Linked DNA regions of Homo sapiens: region 2 is linked to region 1. A link means that fine-mapping ties the variant in region 1 to the plasma level of a protein whose gene starts in the linked region. Region 1 holds a variant in brackets. A gene starts in the other region. All regions are shown on their forward strands.

Region 1 (2,911 bases):
AATCTGAAGAAAGAGAGCACACAGTGCCAAGAGAGCCCTGGCCCTGGCTCTGAAGAAGCCTGTGAGGAGGACTGCCGTCCGTTACGTCTGTGGAGGGAAGGGGAGGAGGTGCTGGGGGGAACACCCCGTCAGCATCTTGGCAAATATGTCCCTAGGACCCCACTGTATGTGGAAGCAGAAGTGTGGGGCCCTGGGCATCCCCCTAGAAACTGAATAGAAGTGATCGAATCATGGAACATGTGAAAAACAAACAAAAGTGGAGAAGACAACAGCCATATTCTTTTCTGGGTGGGCAGAGGGAGAGATCTTTGGGAAAGGGGCTTGGAAGTAGTTCTTTCTTCTCTCCCCCCGGCCACCTATCTGCCTCAGAGAGAAAGAAAAGTAAAACGGAAAGCTTTTGTCAGAGATCAGCAAACTCTGACTCCTATTAGATGCACTTTCGCTTTGAGGATTGGTAGTAATTAACAGAGTGCTTGGTGGAGGTGTGGGGTAGGGAGCTAGTTAACTCCTTCTGGCCACTAGGGTTCTTTTAGTAAATTATTATAATACATAAAGCGGTGCCCTAGTGACCAGAAAGAATCTAGGACTTGGTCTCTAGTAATAATTTGTAGACTGGAAAAATCTGACCAAATAAGAAAGGTCACTTGCTTTTTTTTAAAAATGCTAAAAATAGCAATGATTAATATGAGTGAAAAAAGGGAGAAATTATATGGACACTGTTTGGCCAGACTTACAACTTTACATTTTTCCTTTTTTTTTTTTTTTTAAGCAAAACAAAACTTTCATAAGAAGAAGAGAGAATACTAGAGACTAACAAGCTAAGTTTTCAGCCTGGAAAAGTCATGAAATAGAAGCAAAAAGTAAAAAATTGCATCCAAAAGCCACGAAAAGAAGAATCCTGAGAAACAAACAAATATCTGAAAAGATGTTGTCTCCCTGCAAATGCAAAGTTAAATACAAATTTGGAAAACAAGTAGAAACCTTTCAGATGTCTGGTTGAAAGGTTTAAAAAATAATCTTTAATTGAAAAATTCTGCTCTGTGTGTGTGGATGTGAAAATATCCTTAAATTATCTTCAGGAATTGGACTATAAGGCTCAGTCAATAAAAATTCCAACACTAGAATAATTTTCCTATTGAGATAGAAAAATGTTTGGTCTTAGGAAAGCCAAGAGAAAGCAGGAGCATTTTACCTGTATAAATCCCGTGCTACATCGTCCTCATTGACTGCAT[A/G]TCCGTGGGTATCATCAGTAAAACTGAAGCCTGTGCCCACCTGCAGGAGAAATAAACACGCAGGTATAAACACAGAGAAACACATGCCTTAGGGACCTGCAGAGAGGTCCCACACTGGAAGGTGACCTTGTTCCAAAGGCCAAGCTCAGACTTCAGATTTTTGCCGTTGCCCCCCTATGCCTTTAGCCCTCCTCCCAGGAGGATGCTAGGTGCCACCTATTCTCTCCACCCCCTAAAGCCCAAATAAAACAGCAACACAGAGCTTTGCCCTGGGGTCAGTGGCTGAGCTGTCCTGTGCCTCAGTGGAGACCCTGCCAGATGTTGATTTAAGGAAGAAGGATTCATCTTTTCCATCCCCTGCTACAGTATCAAAAGATCCAAAGTTGTCTCCTCTCTGAAACCTGGAGAGTGCATGGCTCTGTCCTGCCAAGAAGAAACTCTTGGTTGGCGCAGTGGCTCACTTCTGTAATCCCAGCACTTTGGGAGGCTGAGGCGGGCGGAACACCTGAGGTCAGGAGTTTGAGACCAGCCTGGCGAAACCCCGTTTCTACTAAAAATACGAAAATTAGCCGGGCATGATGGCGGGCACCTGTAATCCCAGCTACTCAGGAGGCTGAGGCATAAGAATCACCTGAGCCCAGGAGGCGGAGATTGCAGTGAGCTGAGATCATGCCACTGCATTCCAGCCTGGGTGACCAAGCGAGACTCCGTCTCCAAAAAAAAAAAAAAAAAAAAAGAAAGAAACTCTTTAGGCTGAAGAAAAAGGTAGTTGTACATTGTCTTCCTCTTCTTCTTCTTCCTCCTCCTCCTCCCCCTTCTTGTCTTTATTTGCAAGAAATATGGCCATTAAGCCATTTCATCTTCAGTAGGTAAGGAGTTTTAACATAATTAAGACTAATTTTAAACTAATATTTTCTTATTAGAACCTAGAAGTTCACAGACAACTGAACTGCAAATTCAAAAGAAACTGAACTGCAAATTCAAAAGAAGAAGCTACTATTTTTATGTCAACAATTTGCATAAGGAATGCACTCCCTATCTGGTATAAAGATTTTTGTGTTTTTGTTTTCCAAACACCCAAGGATGTTTAATTCATCTTTTACTTAAATACACAGTTATGGATGAGGAAAATGGAAGGCTGACAAAACAAGGTGGGGGAAAGAGCATGTTGACATTTTTTTCCGCTTTTATTTGTGTTCTTTTGGACCATCTGAAAAGTGAGAGAAGTTAAAGATTTTAGTTAAGAGGGCAAAGATACTCCAAATCTGTAGAAGCTGACCCTAAGTTTCTCTCCTATTTTGCACCTTAATAGAACCAATATCAGAAGACCTCCCCAAGGAGAGTATCACTTTTTGTCCAGAGATGAAGCATGTTGCTTGTCTTAACAAGTGAAGGAGGCCAAGAGCAGTAGCTCATGCCTATAATCCCAGCACTTTGGGAGGCTGAGGTGGGCGGATCACTTGAGGTCAGGAGTTCAAGACCAGCCTGGCCAACATGGTGAAATCCCATCTCTACTAAAAATACAAAAGTTAGCCAGGCATGGTGGCGCAAGTCTGTAATCCCAGCTATTCAGGAGGCTGAGGCAGGAGAATTGCTTCAACCTGGGAAGTGGAGGTTGCAGTGAGCTGAGATGGTGCAACTGCACTCCAGTCTGGGTGACAGAGTGAGATTCATCTCAA
Region 2 (2,911 bases), not on the chromosome of region 1:
TCTGTGACCATGGGAAGAACCAGCCACTAATCTGGAAGTGGCTTCTCCAGAGAACATGGAAGAGGAGATTACAAAACTGTTTCTCCCCTTCCCTTGCCCCACCCACTTTCACATTCTGCTCAGGTCCCAGGCCTGGGTACCAGAGAGAGGATCAAAGATAAACCAAGAGGCTCAAAGGCGAGCCCTGAGGAAAATGCGATGTTAGAGGCCAGGGGTCTAGGATGGGGCAAGGGGGACTCTGCTCAGAGCCTACAAGTCTAAGCCCAAATATGTCCCGAGGCCACAGAGGGAGAAAAAAAAACCCAACAGCTTCTTGGGTCCCTTTGCTCTGCTTCCTGGAGCCCTGGCAGGAGGAAGAAGGCTCTGCCAGCAGCAAAGGCCATGAAGCCTGACAGAGCCAGAAAAGGAAGAAAGATAAACCATGCAACATCAAATGAGCAGGAAGCCTCCCTAGATGTGATCTTCACAGGGACAGGAGAATGAAGACAGCACCAACGAGTCCTGGGGAGAGGGGACTGAGTCATGGAGATCTGTTGGCTCGTTGGCCAGGCTCTCCATCTGGTGAGCTGGGGCCAATGATACATGAGGCTCGGTCCTTCACAGGGTCAGGAGACATTGCACTGTCAAGGACTGTCCACAAGGCTCTAGATCCAAGGAGCAGAGCTCAGATTGGTGGGGGGTGGACGGGGAGAAAATAGCACAGGATGTAAAACTAGATCAATGTTTCCTGAGGACAAAAGAATGTATCCTTGAGCACCAATGTGCAAATGCTAATCCCAATAATCTCCCAGAAATTGGGAGGGAAAGAGCATCAGCTCACCGTACTGGGGGCAGCACAGCCTGTTACTGCACATGGAAAGAGGAGGAAGGAGACAAATGAAAAAGCCACAGGCAGGAGAAACCCGGAGAGCAGGGAAGTGGTCTCGATCTGAAGGGAGCCGGCTGGCCACAGAGAGGGGCTAAGCCCAGACGATGAAACATGAGGACTTACAAAGGACGGCCTGCAGCAGGACGGAGGCGACCAGGACCAGCGTCAGGCAGATTAATGCAGCACGGACTGTGGGTGTTTTCCCCGGGACCAGAGATGGACCGGACTTGGGAGGAGGCTCTGTTGGAAGAAGAAGAAAATGTGTGTTGAAGGAGCAGCAAAGGGCAGGTTTGCACACAGAACACGGAGCAGGTTCTCAGCAGCGATGTGGCTTGCCTCGGGGCCAGAGGGAGATGTTCTGTTTGTCCACAGTGAAGTGCGCATCAGGGGCCTCCTTCTCCACAGTCATCCTGAGTGCTCACCCTTATCCTGGGAGCACAGGTGCTTCTGGCTGCCTGTCTCTCCAAGGGCTCTTATCTAGAGGAAACAGGAAGTCAGTCCCACAGCAGGTCACCATATCATCCCAACTTCCCTATTCCTGACTAGATACCTTGTCTGGCTTACTCCCATCCTCAGAAGTCTGAGCTTTCAGGAAGAGGCCATTTGTTGTCTTCTCTGGGGGTCTGTTACATGGATACATTAACCATCTTGTCCCAAACCTATCCCATTTCTCTTGTAAGACTCTCGTCATCCATCCACCCATCCATTCACCCCACAAATACAGGCTGAGTGCCTTCTAGGTACTGATGCTCTACCAGGCATAGGGCCACAGTGATGAATAACTCGCAGTCCTTGCACCAAGCAGCTCATAGTCTGGTAGGAAAGACAGACATGAGCAAATAAATTGCAAGGTGATGAGCACAAGAGACAAATATGCCCAGTTCAAAGAAGCATATGAAATGGAGTAATGGGAAAAAAAAAAATCCAGTAGAAAGATAAGCATATGCCAAAGGATGGAGCATAAGATAGCATGGAGTGCTTGGCAAATTGTAAATAGTTGCAATATTGCTGGAATGTAAAATATACATTCCAACAGGAAGGGGATGCACACGGGGTTGAAGAGGCACCTGGGGTCTGATGATGAAGATCCTTCTGATCATGTCAAGGAGCTGGACCTCTGGCTTGTGGGTGACATGGGGCCAATTAAGGACTTCAGGCAGGAGAGAGACAAGGACAGGGACACTGTAGAAACATCACTCTGATCCTGGTGAGGAGCAGACTGGTGGGGAGAAGCCTGGAAGCAGAGATACCAAATAGGCAACCATTGCAATAGAATATCCTGCTTCCTGTTATTAATGCATCTTGGCTGATACAATATCCCTTTATAATATGCAACTTGGAGATTCAAAGTGTAAACCTAAGACTTGGGTTCTCCTCCCTGCTTCCTGCACCATGTGAGATTTTCAAAAAAAGTAGGGGCGCTCAGCAACCTCAGACTAGGAATCGTTCTGTTTCTCTCTCCTCTCTCTCTGTCCGCACCTCCTCTCTCCTTCTTTGTAGTCCTAAATAGAGAGTTCCATATGTGCAAGAAGCTCAGGGCACAGAAGAGCTGATTTGGGCTCAATGAAGGACTAAATTTTCTCCTGGGCGGCTTCTCATGCTTTGAAGAAGTCTGCCAAATCTGAGAAATTTGGCACATGGCAGACTCTAGACAAATATTTCTTGGAATATAGGAAAGAGGAGAGGAAAGAGGGAGGGAAGGAAAGAAAAAAGAAGGAAATTGGTCCAGATAATTGGAGGATGGGTGAATGGATGAATGGATGGATAGAGGATGCATGGATGGATGTGTGAATGGTAAGTGACTTGGAGACTTGATAGCTGATCATGCCACTCAGACATTTACACAGTCTGGGGCCTGGGATCTGCCTTCTAGAAGCTGCTGCTTTTTTCCACTGTCTCCAGAAGTTCTCATTCATCTTCAATGCAAAAGCATAAGGGGAAGTGTGATTTACTCCTTACCCAGGAATGAACAAAAGCTCTGGCCGCAGGAAAAGAAAGCTGTCCTGGGCCTGCTGAGGCTGAGCCAGTGGAGCTGGATGACAG

Direction of the effects. Alleles are on the strand shown, and positions count from the first base shown. The strength of an association depends on the size of the effect and on how common the allele is.
For the plasma level of the protein whose gene starts at base 1,317 in region 2, allele A in region 1 goes with a lower level than allele G (weak association).

What was found. PIP is the posterior inclusion probability: the model's chance that the variant is causal. The UK Biobank Pharma Proteomics Project read protein levels with antibody pairs (Olink). The fine-mapping took linkage between variants from a reference panel, not from the people measured, so its PIPs are less certain.
Region 2: it holds the start of CD207, and the variant in region 1 is fine-mapped to the plasma level of the CD207 protein (UK Biobank, PIP above 0.99).

Annotation. Positions count from the first base shown.
Region 1 is chr7:29,091,431-29,094,341 of GRCh38, forward strand. CPVL (carboxypeptidase vitellogenic like) reads right to left here. Exons shown (of 13, transcript NM_031311.5): 6 at 1,193-1,272. Among named protein-coding and RNA genes, the nearest start is that of CPVL-AS1, 13 kb to the left of the region's middle. The variant A/G (reference allele first, on the strand shown) is at 1,233.
Region 2 is chr2:70,834,500-70,837,410 of GRCh38, forward strand. It overlaps CD207 (CD207 molecule), which reads right to left and starts at 1,317. Exons shown (of 6, transcript NM_015717.5): 1 at 1,205-1,317; 2 at 992-1,108. The coding sequence starts at 1,277.